Homo sapiens: one gene and its partners. The protein of the gene in region 2 purifies or fractionates together with the protein of the main gene of each other region. This does not show direct contact. Each region holds a gene or a part of one and is shown on either strand. Other genes may lie near its edges. The genes, in order: NKTR, ZNF786, PCDHA13 and GPALPP1.

Region 1 (6,303 bases), on a different chromosome or scaffold from region 2:
CCAGTTTCTCATTTTTTTTAAATAAAAAAATACATAATATAATTTGCTTCAGCAGCAGGATTGAGGTTTATATGTTGTCAATTATTTAGTAAAATACATTTTTTATGTATTATATGTATTATGTTTAACATATTTTGGCTTCTGCAAAAGTCTTTATGTTAACTTTTGTACTGTCCTTTTCTGGTGGCTTCTGGTCTTGCCTTCCCCTGTCCATTGCAACTGCAATGATGCTTGTAAATATCAGTCTGATCTGGATACTCCCTTGCTTGAAACTCTTCAAGGACTCCCTGCTGCTTTCATGATCAGGTCCAGCCTCCTCAGCACCAACTCCAGCTCACACTCTTTCTGGCTTCCCTCCTTTAAAGTGTTGGGACTTTTCCTTCTGCCTGGAGACACACGTGTCCTCTTCACCATCTCCCCTTTTGCCACTTGAAATGGCCAGTTCCCATCTACCCTGCAGATCTCCACTGTCCCTGGGCAGCCCTCCCTGATGCCTAATCCTAGGATACAGTCCCTCCCATGTGCCTCTAAGACAGCCCTTTGCTCCTACTGTGGCTCCCCTTGCTCCTAAATTACTTGTCTTGCTGACTATTCTATTCTGTCCTTGAACCCCAGAGAACTATACTTGGTTTTGTGTCTTTGTGTGTGTGTGTGTGTGTTCCCAGCATCTTGCAAAATGCCTGGCTCACAGTGAATGTTTTTCAAAATAACTGAATGGGACCCATGACCAGGTCCTCTTGACTCAATATCCCAGTGGTCCTGTTCATGCCCAGGGCCACCCCCACCCCTCATTGGACCCCATTTTGGTTTCCATTCCTTGAGTGAAACTATTTGTGCACCTTTTCCCCATTACTTTTCTCAGGTAATCTATTCAAATATTGATACTCATTTTGGGTAATATGGGGAAACTATTCTGCTCATTGGTTTTTTGTTTTTGTGGTCCCAGCATTTGCATGAATGAATTTCACACAAATTTCCTAAGATGTGATGTTTCTTTATTTTATCTTAATCTTGACATTACTACAACTTGTCATTTAAAACAGCTTCAAAAAGTCCATAGTGTGAGTCGGGCACGGTGGCTCACGCCTGTAATCCCAGCACTTTGGGAGGCTGAGGCAGGTGGATCGTCTGAGGTCAGGAGTTGAAGACCAGCCTGGCCAACATAGTGAAACCCCGTCTCTACTAAATAAAAAAAATTAGCTGGGCGTGGTGGCGGGCACCTGTAATTGCAGCTACTAGGGAGGCTGAGGCAGGAGAATCACTTGAACCCGGGAGGTGGAGGTTGCAGTGAGTTGAGAGCATGCCGTTGCACTCCAACCTGGGCAAAAAGAGTGAAACTCCATCTCAAAAAGAAAAAGAAAAGTCCATGGTGTTGCCATAGTCAGTACCCTACCTCTGTGTTATGCTGCATCAATAGTGCATCAGTTATATGAGTGGCTTGAAAACACTATTGATGTTTTCAAGCCACTCATATAAAAAACAAGCTATAAGAGGAATTCAAAGATTTTACAGTTACAAGATTTTTATATATTTTGTTTTGTTATTACAGGAGTTGTAGATCTTATGGCTCTGACAGTGAAAGTGACCGAAGTTACTCTCATCACCGGAGCCCCAGTGAGAGCAGCAGATACAGTTGAAAACGTCCGGATACAAATTATATCTTATTTGTAAATATCTGGCAACTTAGCTTAAGAAATGTAATGACAGTCTGTTGTTCTATTTCAATATCAGAGGTGAATTTCAAAAATAGACACTTCTTAATTGTTACTGGTTCATTTACATGTGGGGAGAAGAATTTAAAATACAGATATGTCTCCTAAAAATATTTTTATGCCACATTTTACAGTAGCCAACTATGGAAATGAATTTCATTTTCTTGAATCAAGAAATCGTGAAATTTATCTATGTATAATTTGCAATATTATTTTAAGTCTATTTCACTCTATCTTACGTATCCCTTAGAATACAGATTCTTTTTGCCTGTTTTTCCAGTTTTAGCATATATGCTGCCAAGCATAGAACTGTGAAGGAGAACTGTTAAAGGCGGCCAAATATTTATATACTGATTACATAGAGTCTTGTACATATGTGCTCTAAAAACAAACCACCCAGAATTGATACTGTTGGTAACCAGGAGTATAAGGCAGTGGCTCTGGGGTTCTTAATTCATTCCTAACTTCTTTGATACTTCACAGGATTAGGAAAGTGGTCATCATACATCCCACACAGTCTGTATTACTTCAGGCTTGTGGGCAAGGTTAGGAAGAATCAATCAGCCTTAACTATAAATACCTGCACTGTCTCTGAGGACTTACTATTTTATGTTCTTTTTAATCAATACCGATCAGAAGTTTAGGTTATAAAAACAATTCTACTTCATGCTTTGGTGCTTGGTAATTTTTGGTGCGTCTTTAAGCATTACTCTTATATATCATATATTAAAATACCATAAAAATGAAATTCAGACAAAATCACTGGCACCAAAAATGGTTTATTCTGAGCTGTCTTCACTTTGACTATTTGGGGGGCTTCTCTCAAGTACAGATGTGGGTTGGGGTCCCCTGGAGCAGGCAGGATTGGCAGTAAGAGATATTGGCCACTCAAGTCTACTGTGTGTGTGTGCCTCTGGAAGAGTGAAGAATGGACTTCAAAAGTAACATCAAAAATCTAACTGCCACCATCCTGGAGACATTTTGCAGGGCTTTCCTTTCAAGTCTTTCAAGTACAGGATATTACCACAACAGCAGCTGAACTGTTGTAACCAGCATGTTTTTCCTATTTCCACTGTGACCTGCAGCTGACTCAAAGCCTTGCGTGACCTGACCCAGGTGCAAGAGACAGGGGAAGAGGGATAGAGGGTATAGCATAAATTACATATTTTCATGGCTTTGGGTGGTTCCTCCAAAAATAATTGGACCTGTAAAAACTAGTGTGTGTGTGTGTGTGTGTGTGTGTGTGTGTGTGGTTTTTTTTTTTAATCTTTACTTTGAATTTGTTCCCCAAGTGTACTTAATCACCTTAGTGCCAGTTTAATCCAGTTATGCAGAAGAAATTCATATTGGTTGCCTGATGTAGAGCTCAGCACCACCCTACCACAGGCCTTGTCTGGTGTATTTGGGAAGTGGAAAAGAGCCCTCAGTTGGAGGGAGCTGACAACCCTTGGTGGAGGGAGGGTGCCCTTGAATGTATTAAAACTATCACCCAAAGAAGGTATGAAAACAGGGTAAGGTGGTCAGTTGTTTGCCAGGTCAATAGACAGAAAGTACATTAGAAAACAGGACTTAGGCCAAACAAACAATACTGGATACTGAATACAAAACAGTATGATTTATATTAAAGGTTTCCAAAGGTTGCCTGCAAAGGAGAATATTACTACTAGTCAGCAGGAAAAAAATGCATTCAGAACCCAAGCAGAAACTGCCAAATGTAATTAGGTTAAGAAAAGTTACCCTTGGGCAGTGTATTAGTTTTCTATTGCTGTGTGACAAATTACCCCAAATTTAGCAGTTTAAAAAACAATACCCATAGCAGTTCTGTAGCTCATGAGTCTGGCACAGTGTGGCTGGATTCTCTGCTCAGGGTCTTAAAGGCTGAAATAAGGGTTGGCAGGACAACATTCCTTCATGGAGGCTCTGGGGAAGAATCTGCTTCTAAGTTCATTCAGGTTGTTGGCGGAATTCAGTTCTTTGCTGGCTCTCAGCTGGAGGCCCCTCTCTCACCTCAAGGCTGCCTGCATTCCTTCTTATGTGGTCCCCTCCAGCTTCAAACCAGCCTTCCTGCTCTTTCTCATGCTTCATATCTCTCTCCCGTCCTCCTGTTTTAGGGGCATATGATTAGCTCAAGCCCACAGATATATTTTAAGGTTGATTGTGCGATAGAACATAATTGCAGGAGTACTGTCTCATCTCATCATATTCACGGGTTCTGGAGATTAGCTCATTGAAAGTGGGAGGGGCATTTTCAAATTCTGCCTACCACAGGCAATAACTGCCCATCTCAGCTGTAGGTGGAATTTTTACCCAGAAAAGATAGGCCCTAGAAGCCTCATTTCTTTTCTCCATGGAAAAGGACAGCCCTCTGCTGCAGCGTTCAACTTGTGTGTTTACTGACAGAGTGAACTACAGAAATAGCTTTTCTTCCTAAAGGGGATTGTTCTACATTTTGAAGTTATTTTTTAATAAAATTGAATTATGTTGTGTATTGTGCTTCTTAATAGGAAATGCATTATTGGACTGTTTTTGTAACATCCTGTTTATTGCAAATAGCTAGTATCGTTCAAAAACTGTATAAAATACTTTTGTACATATTAGCAATGTCTAATTTGTATACACTTCAGTTAAATTTCCCTAAAACTTGAAAGGGGACCTTGTAGAAATTAAAATATATACTTAGTCTAAGTCTGAGTCTGTTCATGTTTTATCTTTCTGCTGACCCAGCCAGTGAAGACACCTCATCTCCTTTGGCAGCTCCTTTTCTTCTCCTAGCTGAGTGTTAGTGGTGGGTGTAGGAGGTGGAGCTAGAGAGAATGTCAGGCAGAGATTTTAACCTACACAGGTAAGCATTAATGATGTTTGGTCTTCCTCCCCTGGAAAATCCAGATTTCCTCTACACTTTGTTGTCATCTAGTTAAAATGACCTGCATAAAGATGTCTTTGCTGAGGGAGGAATATGTCACATCCCATGTGTGAGTTTCTACCTAGAGACAGTCCATTTACCTACAGCCTCTACATTTCCCTCCCTAACGGCAGCGCACTAGGCAGTGCAGCACATGTCACTCACTCCCAGAGAAAACATTCATGGTGATATTTTTAGTATACACATAAGAATTTGCAGGGGAAGTACAATTAACTTTTGTCTCCTCAGAACTGAAAGGAATGTCTATTTTCTTAGTGAATACAACATAACTTATTGTAGTTAACTTCTCACTGCAGATACTCAGTTTTTAAACTGAGTTAACAGTGGACTCCTTAGTTGGGCAACTCCTGAAATTTGTCAAATCTGGATGCATTCCTTTAAAATGTAAAGAAAATGCAGGATCAAGTTCTGATAGTGGTAAACTTGATAGTTGGGCAGTATTGGGGGGAAAATGTGCCAAGGACTTTGGTCTTGACTCTTCTGAATTAGCTGGGCATTAAATAGGCGGGAAGGTAATTCAAGGAAAATGCCCCTCTTGCAAGAGATTATGGACACTAACTGGGCATCACTGTTTAGAAGAGACGGGAGGTGGCCAGGCATGGTGGCTCACGCCTGTAATCCCAGCACTTTGGGAGGCCAAGGCGGGTGGATCACTTGAGGTCAGGAGTTTGAGACCAGCCTGGCCAACATGGTGAAATCCCGTCTCCACTGGAAAAAAAAAAAGAGGCTCTACTCAGTTTTTCAAGGCAAATGCTGAGCCTTGAAGGAGTGTTGCAAACTAATGTGGTCAGGTGAAAGGATGTGGAAGCCATGCCTCACAAGGTGAAACGGACTGGGTTCAGATTTCCGGAGAACTCTGGTTTTTGGAACAGAGAATCAAGTCTGCTGTTCCCCACAGTGAGGCAAGAGCCTGCAGGCCCATGAGGGCCTTGTGGTAGAATGAGCTGGGAAGACAGCAGGGAGAAGTTCTTTGATGCAGTAAAGGCCCCTCAGGAGTCCAGAGGTGTCAGGGGAGGACGCTGGGTACCCTGAAAGAACACCTGTTCATCTCAGGACAGACTGGGAAGCTTGTCGGGGCCTGGTAAGTGCAAGGCAAGGAGAGCCTGCCCTGGCCACATACACACAGGGCTAGGAGGCTTTAGTGGTCTGTTTTCTTTCAAAGTTTCAGTACAAGGTAGAGATAGTGCTCCCTTGCTGCTGCCTCCACTCCTCACTGTGAATCAGAAGGCCCCAGGTAGGCCTGCTGCCTCTTGGAGACCCCAGACCCACCACTTACTATAGCCCATCAAACTCCAGCTCCCTAGACTGAGCTGAGCTTCACAGCCTGCAGAACCCAGGCTAGCTTGGAGAGGGTTGCATCTCTTCAGCCCAGAGCCTTGAGGACATCAGGGTAAAAGGAGTGGCCACCTATATTTCTAGTGCTTTAGGAGGCCTAGGCAGGAGGATTGCTTGAGGCCAAGAGTTCAAGACCAGTCTGGACAACATAGCAAGACTATTAAGACAAGAACAGAACAAAAAGCAGCTGGGCATGCTGATGCACACCTGTAGTCCCAGCTACTCAGAGGGCTGAGGTGGGAGGATCACTTGAGCCTAGGAGGTGGAGACTACAGTGAGCCATGATTGCATCTCTGCCCAGCTTGGGCAACAAAGCAAGACCCTGTCTGAGAA
Region 2 (10,727 bases):
TGCAAACAGGGATAGTTTGACTTCCTCTATTTCTATTTGGATGACTTTTATTTCTTTCTCTTGCCACACTGCTCTGGCTAGGACTTCCCATCTTTTTGTTATATTCATTATGAAATTTAGAGTTGAGTTTTAAAAACTCTGACTCCTTTAAATTTGTCTTAGTCTGTTTAGTATTGCTGTAAAGGAACACCAAGGTGGGGTAATTTTTAAAGAAAAGAGGTTTATTTGGTTCACAGTTCTGCAGGCTGTATAAGAAGCACATCACCAGCATCTACTTCTGGCGAGGGCCTCAGATGGCTTTTGTTCATGATGGAAGGTGAAGGGGGCTGGGCACGGTGGCTTACACCTGTAATCCCAGCACTTTGGGAGGCCAAGGTGAGCAGATCACCTGAGGTCAGAAGTTCAATACCAGCTTTGCCAATATGGCTAAACCCTGTCCCTACTAAAAATACAAAAATTAGCTGGGTGTGGTGGCAGGGGCCTGTAATCCCGGCTACTTGGGAGGCTGAGGCAGGAGAATCGCTTGAACCCAGGAGGCAGAGATTGCAGTGAGCCAGTATCACACCATTGCACTCCAGCGTGGGTGACAGAGCGACACTCTGTCTCACACACACACACACACACACACATACACACAAAAGGTGAGCTGGCATGTGCACAGATCACATGGCAAGAAGAAGCAAGACAGAAGGGGGGATGTCAGGCTCTTTTTAACCAGCTCCCTCAGGAACTAATAGAGGACAGCACCAAGACATTCATGAGGGATCCACCCCCCATGACCTAAACACCTCCCATTACAGCCCACTTCCAACAGCGCAGATCCTTTTTTTTTTTTTTTGAGATAGAGTCTTGCTCCATCGCCCAGGCAGGCTGAAATGCAGTGGCACGATCTCAGCTCACTGCAGCCTCCACCTCCCAGGTTCAAGCAATTCTGTCTTGGCCTCCCAAGCAGCTGGGACTACAGGCGCCTGCCAACATGCTCGGCTAATTTTTGTATTTTTAGTAGAGGCAGGGTTTCACCTTGTTGGTCAGGCTGGTCTTGAACTCCTGACCTCAGGTGATCCACCTGCCTCAGCCTCCCAAAGTGCTGGGATTACAGGCGTGAGCCACTGTGCCCAGCCGCAAATCCAATTTTGACATGAGATTTAGGGACAAATATCCAAACTGCAGATATAGCAACACTTAAATCAGAAATTCATTATTTTAACTTTAAGGAAATATAGTCATTTCTGCTATAATCCTTGTTTTGAAATGTGAATTTGTTCCAACATGATTATTAGGAGACAATATATTACAAAATTTTGCATTTGCTTATGTGCAATTCTGTCTATAAGAAACACTAGATTAGTGGTTCTCAATCAGAACAATTTTGTCCCCTGGCAACATTTTTTATTGTTATAATGTGGGGAAGCGGGGTGGCCTATGGGCATCTAGTGCGTAGCAGCCAAGAATAGTGATAAACATCCTACGATGCGCAGGACAGCCTGCAAAACAGAAAATTATCCAGCACAGGATGTTAGTAGTGGCAAGGGTGAGAAACTTTGTACTATGTGAACAAACAGAACTGGGCTGCATAGACATACGCAAAATGCACACATGCAACACACTTCAAACATCAGATTACCCTGTGTTATGAGCCCTACCCATTCACCTCCGGGGTCACAACTTTCCATCTCATTTCAGATAACCTTCCTTTCACCACTTCACAATAGCTCACAAACTGCAACCCTTGCTATGCCCACTTCCACAAGCACATTTCAGGTAGTTCTTTTAGGTTTTTTTTTTTTTTGAAACGGGGGTCTCTGTTGCCCAGGCCAGAGTGCAGTGGTGCCAACACAGCTTACCATAGCTTTGATCTCCTGGGCTCAAGTGATTCTGTTGCCTTAGCCTCCCGAGTAGCTAGGACCACAGGGATATGCCACCACACCTGGCTAATTTTCTGTAGAGAGGGGTCTCACCATGTTGCCCAGGCTTTTTTTTTTTTTTTTGTCTTTCTTTCGAGACCGAGTCTTGCTCTGTCACCCAGGCTGGAATGCATTGACACGATCTCAGCTCACTGCAACCTCCGCCTCCGAGGTTCAAGTGATTCTCCTGCCTCAGCCTCTCGAGTATCTGGGATTACAGGTGCCCGCCACCACGTCCAGCTAATTTTTTTATTTTTAGTAGAGATGAGATTTCACCATGTTGGCCAGGCTGGTCTTGAATTCCTGACCTCAGGTGATCTGCCCACCTGGACCTCCCAAAGTGCTGGGATTACAGGTGTGAGCCACCACGCCTGGCCTGCCCAGGCTTATTTCAGGCAGTTTTTAAGGCAATTGAGATAATTTATTACTCATTAAAGTGCATAAAACTGCTTTTAGGTTCTTTCAACACATCACTGATTAAAGTTTGAGTATTGTATGTGTAACATTTCTCCCAATAAGCTCTGTGGTTTTTATTGCACAATTTTGCATAGCACTATGATTTTTAGAAATGCATATGCTGTATTATTGCAGAACTGAACGTATGTTTATACTTGTGTTAAAGATACTCATTCTCTCCTCTTCTCTGATTAAAATTCCTTACTTTTAAAACTTTTTTAATTTTTAGAAGTTTAAAAATCCAGAGAGTTACAGAGAAAACTATAAGCATCCTAGTATTCACCACTGACTTAACAAGTTTAACATTTTTCTTCAGAGTTCCTTTTAATGAAATAGAATGTGACCGGTGAAACTCAAGTTCTTGTGGTTCCTCTCTTCAATCATGTTCTGATATTGTCACATTCTCCTTCCTTTGTAAAGGCAAACATTATAAATAATATGGGAACTTTCCAGTTCATTTTAATACATATATGTATCTGTAAATATTCAGTATTACTTTGTGTCTTTTATACGTAAATACTTTATTATACTTGTATTCTTCCCTCAACATTTTGGGATCTGGCCCTGTTGAGTTTCTTTTTTTTTTTTTTTTGGAGACAGAGTCTTGCTCTGTCGCCCAGGCTGGAGTGCAGTGGCGCGATCTCGGCTCGCTGCAAGCTCCGCCTCCCGGGTTCTCCCGCCTCAGCCTCCCGAGCAGCTGGGACTACAGGCTCCCGCCCACACGCCCAGCTAATTTTTGTTTTTGTATTTTTAGTAGAGACGGGGTTTCACCGTGTTAGCTAGGATGGTCTCGATCTCCTGATCTCGTGATCCGCCCGCCTTGGCCTCCCAAAGTGCTGGGATTAGAGGCGTGAGCCACCACGCCCGGCCCTGTTGATCATATATGTAGCTAATTTATTTTAATTTTGTATAGTGTTCCACCGTCTGAATGTCACAAGTTTGTTTGTTTTTGAGATAGAGTCTCGCTCTGTCGCCCAGGCTGGAGTGCAGTGGCGCCATCTCAGTTCGCTGCAACCTCCACCTCCCGAGTTCAAGCAATTCTCCCTACCTCAGCCTCCCGAGGAGCTGGGATTACAGGCGTCCGCCACCACACTCAGCTAATTTTCGTATTTTTTAGTAGAGACAGTTTTTCGCCATGTTGGCCAGGCTGGTCTTGAACTCCTGACGTCAAGTGATCTGCCCACCTCGGCCTCTCAAAGTGCTGGGATTACAGGCGTAAACCACGGCGCCTGGCCTGAATGTCACAAGTTTTAAAATCCATTCTTTTACTCATTAATAATTTATTTTCAGGTCTGTGATTTGGCTGTTTATATCCTTTCCCCATATATATAGGTATGTATATATTTTTGGAGACGGAGTTTCGCTCTTGTTGCCCAGGCTGGAGTGCAATGGTGCAGTCTCGGCTCACTGCAACCTCCGTCTCCCGGGTTCAAACAATTCTCCTGCCTGAGCCTCCCGAGTAGCTGGGATTACAGGCGCCCGCCATCATGCCAGGCTAATTTTTTGTATTTTTAGTAGAGTTGGGGTTTCACCATGTTGGCCAGGCTGGTCTCGAACTCCCGACCTCACGTGATCCACCCGCCTCGGCCTCCCAAAGTGCTGGGATTACAGGCGTGAGCCACCGCGCCCGGCCTAATTCATTTAATAATCAGCAAAAATCCTCAACATTAAAGTTTACAAGATAAAAATACCCTCTAAACCTCGATTTTAAGAAACCACTAACTTAATTTTTTGTATCCTCTTCTACTCTTCCCAACGTATCATCTTACACTCAACCCAAATCACGCTAGACAATAAATTCTGACATTGAAGCCCCCGCCAAACACCATTTCAACCATTCGGAATCTTAAACTTTTTGGAACAGTTGTTCTGATTTCGGTGACTATGATGTAAAACTGGTTGACCTGTAACATCCACCTCTGGCCCCAAACCTTTCTATCCTTTCCACCGTCCGCTCCCCGTCCGCCCGGCATCCTCGCCCAGGCTCCGCCCCGCTCCTAGGTCGGCCTCGGTCCACGCTCGGCTTTGTCCAGGGGTTTGGCCACGGACAAGCCGCGGGAGCGGAGGCCACCTGCTCACCGCAGGGCCCGGAATCCACATCCCCAGCAGAAGCAGCCTGCAGACTCCGTCCTACCCGTGCACCGCGCGCACTCACGGGGACCCCAGGACACGGGCGAGCCCGGAACCCGAGGACCCACCACGACCCCGAAACCGGGCGTCCAAACAGGCTAGCCCGCTTACCCGAGGCGGCTCCGCCATGGTCCCCGCGGTCCCGCCCGGCCCTGGCAAACCCGACCGTCTCCGGCGGCTCCGCAGGAACCTGCCCTGCTGCGCACTGACTCCCCTCCGCTCCGCCCCAACCCGACTCCCACGCACAGCCCGGGTGGCCCCCAAACGCAGCGCCGGCCGGGCGCGGTGCATGCTGGGACCCGGCGCCCGGCCGCGGCTGCCGCTCAGTCCTACAGCGCCTCCTGCGGGAGGAAGAAGCGGCGCTGCCTGAGCGTCGGTCCTCAGAGGAGGGACCCAGGGGCCCGGGCGCCCTCAGAGCAGGCCGCAGCACGCCGGTCTTTGAGGGACCCTCGGATTCCCGGGATCTGGGGAGGGAAGCGGTCAGAGACAAGCTGAGGAGCTGGCCGGAGGGGAAACGGAGGGGCAGGACATGGAGAGATCAGGGACAGGGACAGGGAGAGATCAGGGACAGGGACAGGGAGACGCGCTCCACAGAAACCCAGACTGAGAGGCAGCGAGAGGGGAACCTCCGGTGCGGTTCCTCCCAAAGCCGCCCCCGAGACAGGCTTCGTCTGTGAGGGGGTCCCGGGAATCCAGCGAGGCCGGAAAGTGGGTGGGGGGCGCGCGCTGCCCGCGGTGGCCCGGGGCATCCGTCCCGCCGGGGGCGCGGAGGCCGTGGGGGCCCCATGCTTGTCCCGCCGGGGACGCGGAGGCGGGGTCCGCCCACCAGGTCCGGTCGCCGTGGGTCTAGAGCCCTCCGGGCTCCCCGGGCGGCCACGCTCCTTCCTTAGCAGAGAACGGCCTTGGGCAGAGACCCCATGCGGAAGCCACCCCGGCCTCAGGGCCGCCTGCAGGGACTCAGGGTGGCCCAAGGCTGCGGTCGGGCACCCCGGGCCCCGGCAGGAGACAGAGACAGAGTAGGAGGAGAAGACGGAGGAGGCCATGACACAGGGCGTGAGAAACACGAGAACGCAAGAACAGGGGAGAGGTGGGGAAACCAGGAAGAGACAGAAAGGAGAGAGGGCGAGGAAGGGGGTGGCGATTGTCTCCAGAAAATCAACCTCGCATTCTGTCTTAGTCATGTCTTAGGTGTCAGGCTGAAGTAGCAAAGGAAAAGTGTGTAGTTTGGAGAGGATGTGCATAAGAAATAAAATAGTCCCTGCGTAGGCTGAGGAGCATATACGCATCTGTGTTTGCCACAGAATCGTGAAATGTACATGCACCTTACTGTTTAACGTTTTTTATTTTTACAACTGTTATACAGTACAATTTTTTTTTTTTGGAGACAAAGTCTCACTCTTGTCACCCAGGCTGGAGTGCTGTGGCGCAATCTCGGCTCACTGCAACCTCTGTCTCCTGGATTCAAGCAATTCTCCTGCCTCAGCCTCCCGAGTAGCTGGGATTACAGGCATTTGCCACCACGCCCGGCTAATTTTTGTATTTTTAGTAGAGACGAGGTTTCACCATGTTGGTCAGGCTGGCCTCAAACTCCTGACCTTGTGATCTACCTGCCTCGGCCTCCCCAAGTGTTGGGATTACAGGCGTGAGCCACCGCGCCTGGCTTTTTTTTTTTTTTTTTTTTTTTTTTTTTTGAGACAGAGTCTTGCTCTGTCGCCAGGCTGGAGTGCAGTGGTGGGATGTCGGCTCACTGCAACCTCCGCCTCCCGGGTTCAAGCTATTCTCCTGCCGCAGCCTCCCGAGTAGCTGGGACTACAGGCACGCGCCACCATGCCCGGCTAATTTTTTGTATTTTAGTAGAGACGGGGTTTCGCCATGTTGGTCAGGCTGGTCTCGAACTCCCAACCTCAGGTGATCCACCCGCCTCGGCCTCCCGAAGTGTATACAGTACAATTTTTTAATGTATACTGCTATGAACTTTTTTTTTTTTTTTTTAGACGAAGTCTTGCCCTTGTTGCCCAGGTTGGAGTGCAGTGGCACGATCTCAGCTCATTGCAGCCTCTGGGTTCAAGTGATTCTCCTGCTGGCCGGGCGCGGTGGCTCAGGCCTGTAATCCCAGCACTTTGGGAGGCCGAGGCGGGCGGATCACGAGGTCAGGAGATCGAGACCATCCTGGCTAACACGGTGAAACCCCGTCTCTACTAAAAATACAAAAAATTAGCCGGGCGAGGTGGCGGGCGCCTGTAGTTCCAGCTACTCTAGAGGCTGAGGCAGGAGAATGGTGTGAACCCGGGAGGCGGAGCTTGCAGTAAGCTGAGATCGCACCACTGCACTCCAGCCTGGGCGACAGAGCGAGACTCTGTCTCAAAAAAAAAAAACCAAAAAACAAAAAAACCTGCTTCACCCTCGCGAGTAGCTGAGATTACAGGCGCATGCCACCATGCCTGCCCCGCTAATTTTTCGTATTTTTAGTAGAGACGGGATTTCACCGTGTTAGTCAGGATGGTCTCCATCTCCTAACCTCGTGATCCGCCCACCTCGGCCTCCCAAAGTGCTGGGATTACAGGTGTGAGCCACTGCACCCTGCCATGAACTTTTAACTATTAACTTTTTTTATAACTGTAAGTTATATAGAAGTATAACTTCTATACTACTACATAGAACTCCAAATTTTAACATATGCATAAACATGTAACTGACATCATAATCAGGCTGTTGTAAAACCCCAAAATCAGGCTTGTGTACCTCATGGGCAGCTGAGGCCAAACACTGAGACACCGGTGCTTGGAGATGCAAAAAGGTTTCATTGATTTGGCCAAAGCGAGAAGGCAGCAGAGCAAATCTCTAAAATCTGTCTTAACAAAAGGAAGCAGGGAGTTTTTATGGGGCTAGAGAGTAAGGGAGGGGGAGTTTCAGGGAACCAAGGGGGAAAGTCTGTGTTTCTTCAGTCTCTGATAACACCTTGAGCAATCAGGCTTCTGGGCGTCAGGGGCTGGCCACAACGACCCTGAAGGCATTCCCCCTGCAACAATTTTTCATGACCCTGAAGTTATCTCCTTCTCCTTGACAATCAAACAGTACATCAGCAGTATGTAATTATATTGTGAGAACAAGGAATATTGGGCAAAAAGCAAGTGGTTAAAACATGCAAACAAGCAAGGGCCTGATCAGAATTTTCATTTATTCAGTCCTTAAGAACTGCAGAATGCTGAAGTCTCAAGGGGCCCGGTTACAAGGCTATTGGAAGTTTCATCACCCTCTAAAATGCCCTTAAATAGCTTTTTTGTTTTGTTTTTTAAAAAATTGTTGGTCCGGCGCGGTGGCTTACGCCTGTAATCCCAGCATTTTGGGAGGCTGAGGCAGGCGGATCACCTGAAGTCAGGAGTTCTAGACCAGCCTGGCCAACATGGTGAAACCCCGTCTCTACTAAAAATACAAAAATTAGCCGGGCGTGGTGGCACGCGCCTGTAATCCTAGCTACTCGGGAGGCTGGGGCAGAAGAATCACTTGAACCCTGGAGGTGGAGGTTGCAGTGAGCCGAGATCACGCCACTGCACTCTGGCCTGAGCAACAGAGCGAGACTCCATCTCAAAAAATAAAACAAAACTAGCCAGGCATAATGGCAGGTGCCTGTAATCCCAGCTACTGGGAAGGCTGAGGTGGGAGAATCACTTGAACCCAGGAGGCGGAGGTTGCATTGAGCCAAGATCACGCCATTGCACTCCAGCCTGGGCAACCGAGCAAGACTCTGTCTCAAAAAAAAGAAAAAAAAGTGTAGAGACAGGGTCTTGCTATGTTTCCCAGTCTGGTCTCAAAATCCTGGCCTCAAGTGATCCTCTGCCTGGGCCTCCCAAAGTGCTGGGATTATAGGTGAGAGCCACTGTGCCCAGCCATCTTGTAATGTCTTTTGATCCACCTCCCTTCCTATATCTGTAACCCCTAGCAAGGGCTGATTTATTTCTGTCCCTATAGTTTTACCTTTCAAGAATGTCATATAAACGGAATTATACAGTATGTAACCTTTTGAGACTTATAAAAGTTTACAACATACTTCAACTCACTATACCTTTGAGATTCATCCACATTGTTATCTGTATCAATGTTATTAAGGAGCACCAGCTGTAGTGGCTCTCACCTGTAGGTCCCCTCAAGGGATCCTGAGGTGGGAGGATCCCTTAAGCCCAAGAGTTCATGGCCAGCCTGGGCAATATAGCGAGACCCCTGTCTCCAAAAAGAAAAATAAATGCAGGCCAGGCACAGTGGCTCATTCCTGTAATCCCAGCACTTTGGGAGGCCGAGGTGGGCGCATCACTTGAGATCAGGAGTTTCAGACCAGCCTGGCCATCATGACAAAAACCTGTCTCTACTAAAAATACAAAAATTAGCTAGGCGTGATAACGCCTGCCCGTAGTCCCAGCTGCTTGTGAGGCTGAGGTAGGAGAATCACTTGAACCCGGGAGGCAGAGGTTGTAGTGAGTGGAGATCACACCACTGCAATCCAGCCTGGGCGACAGAGGGAGACTTTGTCTCAAAAGAAAAGAAAAAAATGCATTAGTACTATGGATGTATCACAGTTTGTATAGCCACCGTTCATCAAAGGACATTTGGATTGTTCCAAATTTTAGCAATTCTGAAGGGAGCTGCTGCAAACATTCATGTAAGTGTTTTTTTCTTTTTTTTTTGAGATGGAGTCTCGCTCTGTAGGCCAGGCTGGAGTGCAGTGGCGCGATCTTGGCTCACTGCAGGCTCTGCCTCCCAGGTCCATGCCATTCTCCTGCCTCAGCCTCCAGAGTAGCTGGGACTACAGGCGCCCGCCACCACGCCCGGCTACTTTTTTTTTTTTTTTTTTTTTTTTTTTTGTATTTTTAGTAGAGACAGGGTTTCACCATGTTAGCCAGGATGGTCTCGATCTCCTGACCTCGCGATCCGCCTGCCTCGGCCTCCCAAAGTGCTGGGATTACAGGCGTGAGTCACCACACCTGGCCATGTCATGTACATGTTTTTGTGTGAACAGAGGTTTTCATTTGTCTAGGATAAATACCCAAGAGTGGGATTGCTGGTCATTCAGTAAGTACATATTTATAAGAAACAAATCATTTTCTAGAATGGCATGATGCTGTTTTGCATTCCCATCAGCAATGTGTGAGAACTCTAGTTGCTCCATATTCTCCATAGTAGCTGGTATTGTCAGATGTTCTAAGGAGTAGAAAGCCTACAGTGGGCTGTGCCTCATGTTTCACTGGTTTAATCCCAGCACTTTAGGAGGCGAAGGCAGCAGAGGATAACTTGAGGCCAGGAGTTCAAGACTAGCCTGGGCAACATGGCAAGACCCTGTCTCTATTTAAAAAAGAAAAGAGAGGTCGGGCACAGTGGCTCACGCCTGTAATCCCAGCACTTTGGGAGGCCGAGGTGGGTGGATCACGAGATCAGGAGTTCAAGACCAGCCTGGCCAAGATGGTGAAACCCCGTCTCTACTAAAAATACAAAAAAAAATTAGCCGGGCACAGTGGCAGGCATCCGTAATCCCAGCTACTTGGGAGGCTGAGGCAGGAGAATCGCTTGAACTCGGAGGGTGGAGGTTGCAGTGAGCCGAGATCACGCCACTGCACTCCAGCCTAGGCGACAGAGTGAGACTCCATCTCAAAAAATAAAAAAAAAAATTAAAAAATAAAATAAAAGAGAAAGCCTACAGTGCAGGGCACTGACAACTGAACATGTCAAATAGAAACCTTTGAAACACCCCACCCAGCAAAAATCCTAACTATGAAATAGTCTTTAGTTTTAGGAAGAAGACATAAAATTTTAACTGCAGGCCGGGTGTGGTGGCTCATGCCTGTAATCCCAGCACTTTGGGAGGCCGAGGTGGGCAGATCACCTGAGGTCAGGAGTTCGAGACCAGCCTGGCCAACATGGTGAAACCCCGTCTCTACTAAAAATACAAAAAGTAGCCAGGCATGGTGTGCACACCTGTAGTCCCAGCTGTTCAGGAGGCTGAGGCAGGAGAATCGCTTGAACCCGGGAGGCAGAGGTTGCAATGAGCCAAGATTGCGCCACACTGCACTCCAACTTGGGTGACACAGTGACAGCTTGGGTGATGCTGCACTCCAGCTTGGGTGACAGCTGCACAAGATTGTGCCACTGCACTCCAGCTTGGGTGACAGCCATCTCGAAAAAAAAAGAAAAAAGAAAAAAAAATTTTTGAGTGGTTTTTCTCAAATTCACTGTTTGGAAAGAAAATGG
Region 3 (9,753 bases), on a different chromosome or scaffold from region 2:
GTACACTACAACTAGATAAGTCCTACAAGAAATACTTAAAGGAGTTCTACAACTGCTTTTTTTTTCTTTTTTGTGAAGAACAGGGTCTTGCTATGTTGCCCAGGCTGGTCTTGAACTCCTGGCTTCAAGCGATCTTCCTGCCTCTGCCTCCCTAAGTGCTGGGATTACAGGCATGAGCCACTGTCCCATAAATGCTGTTGGTGGGCATGTAAATTAGCACTGCCACTAAGGAAAACAGTATGGGAGTCCCTCAAAAAACTACAAATAGAACTACCATATCATCCAGCAATTCCACTATTGGGCATTTATCCAAAGAAAAGGAAACCAGTATGTCAAAGTGATACCTGCACCTCCCATACTTACTGCAGCACTATTCACAATAGCTACTATGTGGAATCAACCTCAATATCCATCAACAGATGAGTGGATAAAGAAAATGTGGTGTATATGCACAACGGAATATTATCCAGCCATAAAAAAGAATGAAATCCTGTTATTCATGGCAGTATGGCTGAGCCTGGAGGGCATATGTTAAGTGAAATAAGTCAGGCACAGAAAAATAAATACATGTTCTCACTTATACGGCAGCTACAAAATTTTATTGAGCTCATGGAAGTAGTATTGTGCTTATCAGAGGCTGGGAAGGGTGAAGGAAAAGGAGGATGGGGAAAGGTTGGTTAATGGATACGAAATTATAGCTACACAGGAGGAATGGGTTGTGGTGTTTTGCAGCACTGTAGCACTGTAGGATAAATATGGTTAACTATAATTTCTTACATATTTTCAAGAAGCTAGAAGAGTGGATTTTAAATGTTCACCATGCAAAAATGGTAAATGTTTGAGATTATGAATATGCTAATTACCCTGATTTTATTATTATACATTGTATATATGTATCAAAATGTCACTCTGTATCCTATAAATATGTACAATTATTATGTACCAACTGGAAATAAAAGGAAAAAAATAGGTGAATGAATACTGAGATATACTTTTGACAGTCTCCAAGGACTAGAGAAACAAAAGTCAGAATCCTGAGTCTACCAGTCATGGTGGAACTTCTTAAACAATCTCTCATGTTTGGCTAGGAAACTGAATAACCGTACTTAAAGAATACATGTAAATTTTAGATAATGAGGTTTTATCTAGAATACCTGAAGCTTGAAATAGATTAAGATTACCCATGATTGCTAGTGCCCCAAGATGCCTGGCAAAAGTCAATTAAAATCCATTCTGGAGAAAGAAAATGTTATAAGCCCCAAATTATTTCCAGGAAGAAGTGTTTAATACAACTTTCAGCACAAAATCAAAGATAACCAGGTTTATGTGGAGACAAAACACCATAAAGATACAATTTTAAAACACACCACAGGAATAGACCCATGAGGATCCCAGTTACTGGACATATCAGAAATAGACGCTAAAACCATGAGCTTATTGTGTTCCAGATATAAATGCCAAGCTTGAAAGTTTCGAGAGGAAACTAGAAATTATACAAAGTAACAATAAATTTGAAAAAGAATAAATAAAAGTATCTTAGACCATTTGTGCTGCTATAACAGAATGCCACAGACTGAGTAATTTATGAGAACGGAAATTTACTTCTCACAATTCTGGAGCCTAGGGGAAGTCCAAGATCAAGGCACCAGCATCTGGTGAAGATCTTCTTGCTGCATCGTCACATGACAGAGCCAAAAGCATAAGAGAGGGACAGGCTCCTTCCATCAAGTCCTTTTACAGTGCCGTTAATTTATTCATGAGGGCAGATCCCTCATAATCTAAACATTTCCTGAAATTCCCCACCTCCCAACACTGTTGTATAAGGGATTGAATTTTCAACACATGAATTTGGGGGTACAAATTCAGACAACAGCAAGAAGAGAGAATTATTAAACTTTAAGGTGGGTGAACTATCCACAATAAAGCCCAAAGAGCAAAAGGTGTTAAAATAAAAGGTAGAAATAGATGGGATAGAGTAATAAGATTAAAATATGTTTAATTAGAGTACTAAAATAATACTATAGAAATACAATGGAACAGAAGCAACATTGGAGAACATTATAGCTGAGGATATGCTCAAAGTGATGTAAAGGCATTAATTCACAAATTCAAAAATCCTATACAATGGACGTTGGGGACTTGGGGGCAAGAGTGGGGGGTGGCGAGGGATAAAAGATTGCAAATATGGTGCAATGTATACTGCTCAGGTGATGGATGCACCAAAATCTCACAAATCACCACCAAAGAACTTACTCATGTAATCAAATACCACCTGTACCCCCAATAACTTACGGAAAAATTAAAAATTAAAAAAAATCCTACTGAATCCAGAACAGGATGATTATAAAGACACAGCATGGTAAAACTGCAAAATATCAGACACACAGAAAATCTGAAAAGCAGCCAAAGGAAAATAAACAGAATACCTTTAAAGGAATGACATTTAGATTGACAGCTAAATTCTTGACAGCAACAATGGAAACCAGTAGACACTGGAATAATATTTACTATGTGCTGTGGGGGTCACACCTAAGATTATACCCTCAGAAAAAATGCTTTTCAATAATTATGATGAAATAAAGACATTTTCAGAAAAACAAAACCTGAAATCATTCCTCACCAGCATCTTTGGACTAAAGGAAACTCTCAAATTATTCTAACATGGAAAGACAATAATCCCTGATGAAAGGTCAGAGGGGCAAGAAGTAAGGAAGAGAAACAAAACTGGTAAATATGTAAGTACATTTAAAACAATGTTGATTGTATAAAATAATACTAATATCTTATGGGGTTTTAAAATATTTTTAAAGCATGACAGAAATAGTATATAAGTCAAAAGGGATTAAAAAGATTTTAAAAATGTAAGGTCCCTGCATTTCCCAGAAGGAGGAAGGGTTTCAGTTAACTTTTGATTTTGATATATCAAGGATACATGCTTAATTTTCTAGGGTAAGCACTAGCTATTCGGAAAAGGGCTTCCAAATAATACAGAAGGAAATGGAACAATAAAAAGTACTCAGTCATTTCAAAAGAAGATCAACAAAGGAAGGAAATAGAGACATAAAAATGGTGAGACAAAAATAACGCACAAAAAATTGAAATATTTGTGCCTAAAGATATCACTAGGTATTGTAAATATAAACTAAATAAATATTCAAGTTAAAATTTATAGATTATCTAAGAAAGAGTACTTGTTCAGGTTATCCATTGCTATATAGTAAACCATCCCAACTACCTAATATCTTAAAACAACTTAATATTACCTCTCCTGGTTCTGACTCAACTGAGTGGTTCTTGCTTGCAATCAGGTGCAGTAGTGTACTGGTAAATGCTTAACAACTAGGTCTCTGGGAAAAAAGAAAAACAAAAAACTCTGTTTTGTAGCATTTGCCTATTTCTGTGGCAGAAATACTCCTACCATGGCCAATTTCAAGCTACCAAAGTGACATCATTGAATCCAGAGTTGGGAATAAATTTGCATTATCAGTTCTCATAAGCCAGTAAAAGAGCCAGCTCCAACACACTACAGTCACCTGAAGCCTTCTACATTTTTCTGGCACCTAAGCTTGGAAAGCTAAGACAACTGGAGACTGGATAGTAATTTTTCTATCCATTTGGCTTCTCACAAGTCCAGCTTGAGCTTCTTTACAGTATGACAATCTCAAGGTAGTCAGAATTCTTACATGGTGGCAGGCTTCCCCCAAAACAAATATTCTCAGAGACCAAAGCATACTGTAAGACTTCTTATGACCTGACTTCATAAATCCCAGAATGTTACTTCCAATATTAAGACCAGTCAAAGTTCAAGGAAAGAAAAATTAGACTCTGCTACTCAGTGAGACAGTAGCAAAGAACTTGTGGAATATGCCCATAATACTAAAAGGTTTAAAATAAAAGGCTGGGAAGAGGACATCTCCTGCAAACACAAATGAAAAGAAGAGAAATGAATCAGTATAATTAATATAAAAATATTTCAAAGCAAAAACAAAAATCAGAAAGCAGAATTCTGAAGAAAAGTAAATTAGACAGGAAGCAAAAATAATATCAAGAATGGAAAGGGAAATATCACTATAGATTCTGTAGAAAGTATGAGCATATAACTGAAAATTTAGATTAAACAGGAAAATACCTGAAAAAATATTATCTACGTAACTGACTCGAGTAAATTAAACTCTGAATGGTCCTTATACTATTAAAATTGAGTCAGTAATCAGAAATATTCCCACCAATCAAAATCCTGATACAGATAACTTCAACAGTGAGTTCTCCAATCAAATAAGAAGTAATTCAAAGATTATACAAACTTTTACAGGAAACAGAAAATTTTCTGGAAGTTTTCAAAGACTATTCTTCTTTGTTAAGTATTCAAGTTATGCTAGATTCTTATTTATAACTTGAATACTTAACAAAGAAGAAATTAGGAAGAAAAACTAGGACATATCAGTATCACCTGGAATAAAGATGAAAAAATTGTTTTGAAAATTTAACAAAATAAGTAGTATATTAAAAGGATTATAAATTATAATCAAATTACGGTTATCCAAGGAAGTAGAGGTTGGTTTGCCATAAGAAAATCATAAATCATAAATTCAACACATTAACATTGCCAAAGAAAAAATTTATACCTCCCTCAAAAGATGCAGATAAAATATTTGATAACATTAAACCTCAATTCTAATGTTTTAATTTTTATGTTGAGACATGGTCTCACTCTGTCACCAGGCTGCAGTGGAGTGATGTGATCACAGATCACAGATCACTGATCAACCTCCCCAGATCAGGCTATCCCTTCAAAATTAAAAAAAAAAGTGGGTAGAATAATTCCTAGAGCTCACAAAGGGCTGGAAATATTTCACATTCCTACCAATCAGAGAAGAGAGACCTCTTAATGCACAGGGCATTAGGTGGTGTCCTCAGGAAAGTATTGCTGTAATAGAAGGCCGAATTAGTGCTACACTAAAAGCTGCTCTGAATGTGTACTAACAAATCTTAAAATGAAGCCTTGAAAGGAATAAATTGGTACTGAGCAACTTAACTTCACGTCAGAACTAAGTCCAAGACTCTTTAAAGCAGAGTTTCTCAACAGTGGAACTACTGACATTTTGAGCTAATTCTTTATTGTTGGGCGGCTGTCCTGTGCACGGTAGGATGTTTGGCAGCAATTGGATGGTGTTTAGCAGCATCTCAGAGCTCCATTATTAGATGCCAGTAGCAATTCCCTAGTTGTAATAACCAAAAATGTATCCAGGCATTGCCAAATTATCTCCTGGGTAGGGGGTAGAGGGGACAAAACTGTTTCTTATCAAGAACTACTGCTTTAAAGGAACACGCACACACATGCACACACACACAAAATCCAGCATCCGACAATGTAAAATTCACAATGTCTAGCATCTTATTAGAGATTACCAGTCATGCAAAACAGCAAGAAAATATATCCATAGAAGAAGATAGATTAAAAGAAGCAAACTAAGGACAAAAATGTTGAAATTAGCAGACAAGAAAGTTAAAACATCTATTATACATGTACTAATATGCTCAAACATATAGATAAAAAGATGACTATTCGGTGGAGACATGTAAAATAAATTTTAAAAGAGACAAAAAGAATCTTATACAGATAAGAAATAAATATGGTCTCTGAAATGAAGAATACACTGTTTAGGATTAACAGATATGATACTACAAAAGGAAAAATTAGTGAACTTGGAAAATATGTCAATAAAAGATATTCAAAATGAGGCACAGAGAAAGAAATGGACAAAAATAAAGAACGCTTCAATGACCTGTGTCATTGTAACATATGTGTTACTGGAGTCTCAGAAAGGATGGAAGGAAAGAAAAAACTATTAGAAGAAGTATGGTTGATTTTTTCCTGAATTTGATGAAAATGATAAATCCACAGATCCAAGAATATCAACAAACCCCAACAGACTAACATAAAGAAAACCATACTAAAGCACATCACAATCAATCTGCAAAAGTCAGGATAAAAAGAAAAGTTTTAACAGTAACCATGAGGGGTGGGGAGAGGAAGACTCATATATAAAAAAGCAAACATCTTATTAGAAACTATGCAAGCCAGAAGACAACTGAATTATATCTTTTAAAAAACTGTCAACTATGCCCAGTGAAAATACTTTTTCAAAAATAAAAATGAGATAAAGAGCCGGGCGCGGTGGCTCACACCTGTAATCCCAGCACTTTGGGAGGCCGAGCCAGGTGGATCACGAGGTCAGGAGTTCGAGACTATCCTGGCTAACAAGATGAAACCCCATCTCTACTAAAAATACAAAAAATTAGCAGGGCGTGGTGGCGGGCGCCGGTAGTCTCAGCTACTCGGGAGGCTGAGGCAGGAGAATGGCGTGAACCCGGGAGGTGGAGCTTGCAGTGAGCCGAGATCACGCCACTGTACTCCAGCCTGGGCGACAGAGTGAGACTCCGTCTCAAAAAAAAAAAAAGAGATAAAGATATTTCTCAGACAAAAGCTGAGTGAATTTGTTGCCAGAACATATGCACTATAAAAAATATTAAAGAAATTTTTCAGGCAGTAGGAAAGTGATACCAACTGGAAATTTGGATTTACAAAATAATAAATTTCGTTGCTAAATGTCTAATGTGTAGAACATGCCTGGCACATAGAGAACACTCAATAAGTATTTATTAAATGCATTTAATTAATGAATGTTCAATATAGGAGTTGGGAAGACCTTTCTTTTTTTTTTTTTTTTTTTTCAAGACGAAGTCTTGCTCTGTCACCCAGAGCTGGAGTACAGTAGCATGATCTCATCTCACTGCAACCTCCACCTCCCGGGTTCAAGCAATTCTCTTGCTTCAGCCTCCCAAGTAGCTGGGATTACAGGCGCGTGCCACCATGCCTCGCTAATTTTTGTATTTTTAGTAGAGACAGGGTTTCACCATGTTGGCCAGGCTGGTCTCGGACTCCTGATCTCCTGATCCGCCCACCTTGGCCTCCCAAAGTGCTGGGATTACAGGCGTGAGCCACCGTGCCCAGCTGGGAAGACCTTTCTAACTGAATATGCAGACCTTAAAATCCATAAAAGGAAAAAGATATATTTTAATTCATACATTTTAAAAACATTTATATATGACAAAATTAGTACAAACAAATGAATAGAAATAATATAGGAGGAAAACATATTTGTGATGCAGATAATAGATAAGCACACCATGGCATGTACACCTATGTAACAAACCTGCACGTTCTGCACATGTATCCCAGAACTTAAAGTGTAATAAAAAATAAATAAATATAAAAATAATTTTAAAAAATTTTATCTATAAATAGAGATACTTTTATTTATTTCTGAAGTAAAAGTAACAAAATTAGAGAAATGGAGAACAGATTACTGCTTGCCAGCATTAGGCAGGGAAGCAGATGTGGCTATAAAAAGGTGATATCAAGAATCTGGTTGTTACGGAACTATGTTACTTCTTTACTGTATCAATGTCAATATCCAGGTTGTGGTATGGCCCTACGCTTTTGTAAGATGTTACTATTGGGGAAAACTTAGTGAAGAATACATAGCATCTCCCTTTACTATTTCTTTCAACCACATGCGAATCTATAATTATCTCAAAATAAAAATTTTAATTAAAAATGTCAAAAAATAGATAAACAGTTAATATCTATAAGGTACAGAGAACTTTTCCAAACTGAAACTAAAAATTTTTTTTCAATAGAAAAGTAGGCAAATAACTTAATGGATAAATCAAAGAAGATCAAATACAAATCAACAAAATACATATGACAATATGCTCAAATTCACTAATACTATACAGGAATTTAAAATTAAAGTAACAGTGAAATATCATTTCACAGAGATCACATTAGCAGAAAGTAAAACCACTATTGCTTCTTGAGATAGAAAGAGTGCTCATAACTGGTTGGTTCCAAAATACTTGGAAGGCAATCCAGTGACATATTTTATAATTAAAATTATTAATATCTTTGATGCATCAATTCCACATCTGACAATCAATTTCGTAGAAATAACACCAATATTTTGGGAAATATATGAAATGATAGCACAGCATGGTTCATGAAGATAACAGAACACTTGACACAAAGTGATTGCCCATCATTAGGTAAATAATATATAATTGCACACTTACACTGTGGAATACTACACAGCTATTAAAACCATTAGATTTGCAGGGACTGCCAAAAGGTACTTTCAGTCACCAGTACCTTTTGGAAATCCCTTCAAACTTTGGAAAAGAAATAATAACAAAAAGCCTACCAGGTCTCTCTCTATATATGTATATATATATGTATGAGTAATTATCTGAATGCAAATAAAAAATTGAAAGCAGAATCACAAGATATTTTTCATGGGATATATGAGAGGGGAACACTGATGTGCCTAGAGGACAAAAAAGTAGAGACAATCAAAACAGTTTAAAAAAAGAAAGAAAGAAAAGTGCACTTAAAAAAAGCATTTATGTGAAAAGTTATGGGGCTCTTTAAAATAATATCTTGTGGGTATATGTATACATTAAACTAAAAATTTTTTAAATTTAAGATTACGATTAGCCTCATTAAAACAAACATTTTCTAAATGTTTAAGTTCTCACAACGTGAGGAATTTTTTGTAAATGCTCAATTGCAAGATAAATACTTAGAACTATTAAGAATACAACAGAAACAAAATATTCTTGTTTTGCACATTTCATTATGGTTTGTGAGTTAAGATTTCACTCTGAAGGATAATCCAACACATAATGTCCACAGCAGAGTTGTTAAATTCGATAACAACTAGCAAAATTAAAATTAAAGTAAAGAATAATTTGAAATTGGCAGGAAAGATGTCTTAAACAAACAACTGCAAGGAAGGCTAAAGTGTTTACTAAGACAATTTTTTAAAATATAAGCTTACCTCTTTCAAGCATTCTGAGTCCTCCTCCCTCTGGCCTGTTCCCTCTGCAGAACCCAGACAAGGAGGAAGGCTGGGACTGAAGGCCATGAGGTCCGTCTTATGCGGGCCCTCCCCAGAGCACACCCTCGGCCGCCTCTGCTGCGAGTACGACCAACTCCCTGCCGCGCTGGAGCACACTAGAGTGGGCTTGCCCGGCGCGCACGCGCCCTCGGTGGGCGGTGCCGAGCACCGCAGCGCAGTATACAGCAGCAACGTGAGCACCAACAGGCTGGACACCGCGCAGATGGCAATGATCAAGTAAACATTGACATCCACCAGCGCCGCTTCTGGACCCACAGCGCCTGCCGACGCCCTCGACGAAGCCTGTGGCGCTTGGCCGCTCTCCACCAGCGACAACAGCACCGTTGCCGTGGCCGTCAGCGCGGGCTCACCGTGGTCCTTCACCAGCACCAGAAGGCGGTGGTGCGGCGCGTCCACCTCGTCCAGAGGGCGCGTCGTGCTGATCTCGCCAGTGTACAGCCCCACGCGGAACGGGATGCGCGCGCCGACCGCCGCCAGCTGCAATTCATACGAAAGCCACGCATTGTAGCCCGAATCGGCGTCCACCGCGCGCACCTTCGCCACCACGTGGCCTGCACCCACCGACCGCGGCATCAGCTCGCTCACTGTGCCTCCCGCGCTGCCAGCCCCGGGCGTCAGCAGCGCCGGAGCGTTGTCGTTCTCGTCCAGCACGAACACCTGCAGCGTCACGTTGCTGCCCAGAGGCGGCACGCCAGAGTCGCGCGCGCTCACCTGGAACTGCAACAGCTCCAGCTCCTCGTGGTCCAACGGCTGCAGCGCGTACACCTTGCCG
Region 4 (6,021 bases), on a different chromosome or scaffold from region 2:
TTCTGTTCCTAAAAGCATTCTCTTAGTAAAGCTCAAAATGAAAAGGTTGAAAGGGGCAGTGAACAGCTTTTTAACTGTGTACATACTGCAGTCACAAGCAATTTTTTAAGCTGCAAAAATCATCTAAGTAGCATGAGCTTTTGAAACTGCAGACTTAAATCTCATGATGGCATCAAAAGCCAAAGCGAAATAAATCAATATTCTGAAATAGAAGACTTGGCTGTCGATGTTAATTGGGTGCTATCTCCAACCACTTTCCATCATGTTACTTCTTCCTCTTAGGTGTAACTCAAGAAATAACTTTTTTCTAATAATACCTATCACTGCATGGAAAAAATGAAAAGAGAAGTGATAAGGGCCTCCTATTAGTAGTTTAATATTAACATTATCTACCCTCAATAAGAAACAAAAAATGTCATAATGTTTTAGGATAAAATTACTTATACAATAACCATTGATCTATTCTGAAGCATGTAAGCCTTGGTACCATGCAAATCTCAACCTCACTTTTTTTTTTTTTTGGAGATGGAGTCTCGCTCTGTCGCCCAGGCTGGAGTGCAGTGGCGCGATCTTGGCTCACTGCAACCTCCGCCTCCTGGGTTCAAGCAATTCTTCTGCCTCAGCCTCCCGAGTAGCTGGGACTACAGGCGCACACCGCCATGCCCAGCTAATTTTTTGTATTTTAGTAGAGACAGGGTTTCACCATGTTGCCCAGGCTGGGTCTCAAACTCCTGAGCTCAGGCAATCCGCCTGCCTTGGCCTCCCAAAGTGCTAGAATTACAGGCGTGAGCCACCGCACCTGGCCAATCTCAACCTCACTTCTAAATAAATCGTTAATACAAAGAATCATTCAGGCCAGGCGCGGTGGCTCACGCCTGTAATCCCAGCACTTTGGGAGGCTGAGGTGGGCGGATCACCTGAGGTCAGGAGTTCGAGACCAGCCTGACTAACATGGTGAAACCCCGTCTCTACTAAAAATACAAAAATTAGCTGGGCACGGTGGTGGGCGCCTGTAGTCCCAGCTACTTGGGAGGCTGAGGCAGAAGAATCGCTTGAACTCGGGAGGTGGAGGTTGCAGTGAGCCGAGATCACGCCACTGCACTCCAGCCTGGGCAGCAAGAGTGAGACTCCATCTCAATAACAAAAAACAAAACAAAGAATCATTCAAGGTTAAGATGATAAATTAAATGTCAAGTGGTTGCTACATCTAAACAAGATCTACATCTAAACAAGGTTGCTAGCATCTAAAAACTCTTAGATCAGGGCTTTTCTCTTTTTTCTTTTTCTTTTTTTTTAGAGCAAGACTTAATTTACCATGTTGTGCCTAATACAAAAAGGATTTCATTTATCTGGTAAGGCAGTCTTAGTAGGGGTGTAGCCACCATCTCTCGTGTTTTGTTCACCCCTTACTTCCCCACTTGCTAAACCCAATAACCCCACCGTTTACTTACCAGTAATGTGGTTACTATTTGAAGCATCTAAATCTATTGGAGATGACAATTTAGAGAGCTGGACAAAAATCATATAATTTCAAGTATAACAAACTTAAATGGCATATTCAATGGTAAGAACATTAAAAGTATCTGCTCCATTATATTAACTTAGTGTTGCTCTTTTTTTCTTCTTCATTTTTAAATTTCAAAAGAGGCCACATTCCTATGACACTTGGCCAAGAAATGTAGGAAATTAAAAAGTCCTTATTAAAATGTCTCCTGCCAGATGGAAAGGAGACTTGATTCAATTAGGCCTTTTGCATCTTTGGAAGTGGGGAGGGGATGAAATAAAGACACCTTTCCGTCCTGTGCAATAACTACTTTGTCCTTTTGTTGTCAATATTCTTGTATTGGGATTAGTCTCTCTGTGGGGCAAAACAACCTCTGAAACTGGCCTTACATTTTGTTAAAATTATCCTCAGGTTGGCACAAAAGAGCATTATCTCCAAGGCCAGTAAGGTAGTAACTCCTGGAAGCAATAGGCGGAAAGCAGAGGTTTCTCTCCTTCATGCCAAGGTCATGGTCACTCCAAAGGTGAGGGATGAAACAGTAAATATATAATACAGAAATATCCCTATTCTCTTTAAATGAGGAAAACAAAGAAAAGTAAGTATCCAAAGATAACAATTTTACTTTAAAAAATGCAAATTTCTCAAAAATATATGTTAAGAATTTACATAAGGAAGAGGAGCTACAAAATACTTTTTTCCTTTCATTGGGAAAAAATTATAACAAAATTAAATTAATGCAATGGAGACACTCTTGTACAAAATTTTGTGTTCAGAAAATACTGCTCATTAAAAATGACATTTTTAGTCAAAAGGTAGCTCTGTTCAATTTTGAGTACACAAGAAGCTTTTTCAATTTGCTTAGGAGAAAAATTCATCTATTTATTTACTTATTTATTTAGAGATGGAGTTTCACTCTTGTTGCCCAGGCTGGAATGCAATGGTGTGATCTTGGCTCACTGCAACCTCCGCCTCCTAGGTTCAAGCAATTATCCTGCTTCAGCCTCCTGAGTAGCTGGGATTACAGGCACCCGCCACCAGGCCCGACTAATTTTTATATTTTTAATAGAGACAGGATTTCACCATGTTGGTCAGGCTGGTCTTGAACTCCTGACCTCAGGTGATCCACCCACCTCGGCCTCCCAAAGTGCTGGGATTATAGGTATGAGCCACTGCGCCCAGCTAATTCATCTTTTTAATAGCAATGCTCCTTTAGTTTGCTATGGTTTACACTGATGCTATGGAAAAAATATACTGTACTGCTATTATTAGAGGAAGAATAATTTGTACCATCATATAAACAATATACTCAATTTTCATAAAGCTTACATGAACTGGGAATCAGAATATTTTTCCATTAAAAATTTGTGTCTTGGCCAGGCATGGTGGCTGATGCCTGTAATCCCAGCATTTTGGGAGGCCGAGGCAGGTAGATCACCTGAGGTCTGGAGTTCGAGACCAGCCTGGAACAATATATAGTGAAACCCCATCTCTACTAAAAAATACAAAAATTAGCTGAGCATGGTGGTGCACGCCTGTAGTCCCAGCTACTTGGGACACTGAGGCAGGAGAATCGCTTGAACCCAGGAGGCGGAGGTTGCAGTAAGCTGAGATCACGCCACTCTACTCCAGCCTGGGTGACAGAGCAAGACTCCATCTCTCAAAAAAACAAAAATAAACAACAACAAAAATTTGTGTCTCATCAAAACTAGAATACTAGTGGAACAATTGGGATTAATCTGCAAGAAAATATAACTTATAGAATTGGCATTTATTTAACAATAGTTTAATAGTTTAAATAGAATTTCTCATCTTATAAATTTATCATCTTAAGAGGCAGTGCTTAAAGCATTACAAACTTATAATACTCCCAATTAGGGGGGTTATGATTATAAATTTTCCATTTCCATTTTTGTATTCAGGGATTATTAAATTTTTAAAAAAGGCTATTCATGACTGATATGACCCCCGTAAATTAGCTAAAAAAAAGATATGACCCCATAAATTAGCTACAAACTGTTAAGTACAGCATATAAATGGGTAAAGTAAAGTTGTCCCAAAGCAAAGTTCCAGGACTCAGAAAGCTTTGGTTGAGATCAGAGATTGAGTCTTACAGATTTCACAATGCTAACAGTTAATGGCATATCTTATCTTGATTGCCTCCCCTAGAAATACTAACTATTAAAGTTGGAAAAAGCAAAATAGTTTTTCCTTAGCACATGAGATAACCCAGAGATCTTTCTGACTTAAAAACAATTAAAAAATTAAATAACAAATAAAAAGCCCTGAGTGCTAAAACAAGCAAACTGATTACAAAACAGGCAAAACCCCATACCCTCTATTTTCAAGTAAATTTGTATTCACTGGCTGCAGTTTAAAGGGAAAAAACAACAAATTTCAAAGTCATGGATTTACAGTAAGGACTTGACACACTGACTCTAGGGCAGGTTAGGTATATTTCACAAGGAGGTCCAGGCTGTGGTAGAGATTTGGTGGTCAGTCCTGACCAGACCTTAGAGGGTACTTGTGAGACACCACAAAAATCAGGGGGAATGGAAGCCTCTTAAAATAATTATTTGAAGAAAAGCCCATAATTCCCCATACTTCCACAGAAGCTAAAGGCACATAGAATATTCTGTTCTACATAAAAAACATTCGTTTTATGTTTCCACATGACCTTAAAAGGACATACAGAACAAGGTAAATTTGTATGTTTTTTAAGATTAAAGTAATCTCTAATCTTAAGAAGCCAAAAACAAAGAAATAAAGATGGACAAAGAGTATTCTTCAACTTTTCTTCATTGCACAGGGAAATCCCCCTGAGGTAAGAATAAGAAAACTCAGTAAGTTGGAAAATATTTCTAAATTTAACATATTTTCCTCAAAAATCACATTTGAATATTGATATAGGTTTAATACAATTAAAAATCATAAAGATATTAAGAAGCAACCTCAGCTTTTATGTAATTTCTTTTCTTCTCTTTTTCTTTCTTTTTTGAGACAGAGTCTCTCGATCTTGTCACCTAGGCTAGAGTGCAGTGGCACGATCTCGGCTCACTGTAACCTCCACCTCCCGGGTTCAAGCAATTCTCCTGCCTCAGGCTCCCAAGTAGCTGAGATTACAGGCACGTGCCACCACACCTGGCTAATTTTTATATATATATATTTTTAATAGAGATGGGGTTTCACCATGTTGTTCAGGCTGGTCTCGAACTCCTGACCTCAGGTGATCCACCCGCCTCACCCTCCCAAAGTGCTGGGATTACAGGTGTGAGCCACTGGCCTCTTTTTTTTTTTCTAAAGAGACGAGGTCTCACTTTGTTGCCCAGACTGGAGTGCAATGGCACAATCACAGCTCACTGCTGCCTTGAATTCCTGGGCTCAAGGGATCCTCCCACCTCAGCCTGCTGAGTAGCTGGGACTATAGGTGTGCTCCACTGCACCTGGTTAGTTTTTTGTAGATACGGGGTCTCACCATCTTAAGCAGGCTGGTCTCAAACTACTGGGCTCAAGCGATCCTCTCACATTGGCCTCCCAAAGTGTTGGGATTACAGGCGTGAGCCACTGCACCCAGCTTTATGTAATTTCTTAATCACCATTCTGAACCCTTGTCAGATTGGGCTATGGATGAATATTGGAATAGTTTTGAACCTTAACTTATAGGGGACCTTTCTAAGCAACAAACATTTCCTAGTTGGGATTTTGTTTAACATACAAACAACCAGCAAGCCTTTCTTCATCTTTAATAAAGCATGCATATTTACTCAAGTATCAAACCACACCTTCCTTTGCCATTTCTCATAAGCTGAATTTTTATTTTAGCATTTTTAATAGCAATGCCCTATTAGGTTATTATGAGGGATTTTTCCAGTAAGACATATTTTTCATCCCACAAGGCTGACTTTTCAAAAATCACTGTTTACTTATAAAAATATAAAATTTTTAATCTATTATAAAAGGAAATAGATTTCAGCACAATTATTAAAGACAATAGAGTATTTAGAAAAGTTCACATTGATCAGTATTAAAATATACCTCACTGAAATATACTTACTTATAAAAACATATTGCCTTTGCCGTGTGAAAATCTGGTGTTTAGTTCTCTAGATTTTTTTATTAGGGCTTTTTTCTGAGCTTCATCAAACCGATTAACCTTGAGATCTTTATCACGGTCAAATGGTATTCTCTCTTGAGGCTTATTTTTGTCTTCAGCAGCCTTACTCTTTAACTTTTTATGATGTATGTCCATAAGAGATTCTGATCTTTTTGATTCCTGGAGAGAGCAGGAGAGCAGAAATAAAAACTATAGTTTGTATATAGATTATTGACAGAATATGACCATGAAACGGAATAGATAGTAATGGTGCACATTAAGGAGGGCTATTTACAAACCCCAGTAGTTTTTTTTTTTCCAAATCCAAGACAGCATTTATAAAGAAAATATGTAATGAAAAGCATTATGGTTATTTAAATACTAAACATCAGAGTACAAACCAAGAACGGGGTGTGAAAGAAAGAGC

The links.
Region 1: the proteins of ZNF786 (region 2) and NKTR purify together in Homo sapiens (affinity purification with mass spectrometry; 2 studies listed by BioGRID and IntAct, with this or other methods). This does not show direct contact.
Region 3: the proteins of ZNF786 (region 2) and PCDHA13 purify together in Homo sapiens (affinity purification with mass spectrometry; 2 studies listed by BioGRID and IntAct, with this or other methods). This does not show direct contact.
Region 4: the proteins of ZNF786 (region 2) and GPALPP1 purify together in Homo sapiens (affinity purification with mass spectrometry; 2 studies listed by BioGRID and IntAct, with this or other methods). This does not show direct contact.

Annotation. Positions count from the first base shown.
Region 1 is NC_000003.12:42,644,339-42,650,641, forward strand, and holds the end of NKTR (NK-tumor recognition protein), read left to right. Parts: intron 1-1,549; coding exon 1,550-1,637; 3' UTR 1,638-4,397; downstream 4,398-6,303. UniProt on the Homo sapiens protein: PPIase that catalyzes the cis-trans isomerization of proline imidic peptide bonds in oligopeptides and may therefore assist protein folding. Component of a putative tumor-recognition complex involved in the function of NK cells.
Region 2 is NC_000007.14:149,086,022-149,096,748, forward strand, and holds the start of ZNF786 (zinc finger protein 786), read right to left. Parts: upstream 4,698-10,727; 5' UTR 4,620-4,697; coding exon 4,602-4,619; intron 1-4,601. UniProt on the Homo sapiens protein: May be involved in transcriptional regulation.
Region 3 is NC_000005.10:140,883,810-140,893,562, reverse strand, and holds part of PCDHA13 (protocadherin alpha-13 isoform 1 precursor), read right to left. Parts: coding exon 8,901-9,753; coding exon of another isoform or gene 8,871-8,900; exon of another isoform or gene 8,683-8,870; intron 1-8,682. UniProt on the Homo sapiens protein: Potential calcium-dependent cell-adhesion protein. May be involved in the establishment and maintenance of specific neuronal connections in the brain.
Region 4 is NC_000013.11:45,027,538-45,033,558, reverse strand, and holds the end of GPALPP1 (GPALPP motifs-containing protein 1), read right to left. Parts: intron 5,775-6,021; coding exon 5,556-5,774; 3' UTR 3,254-5,555; downstream 1-3,253.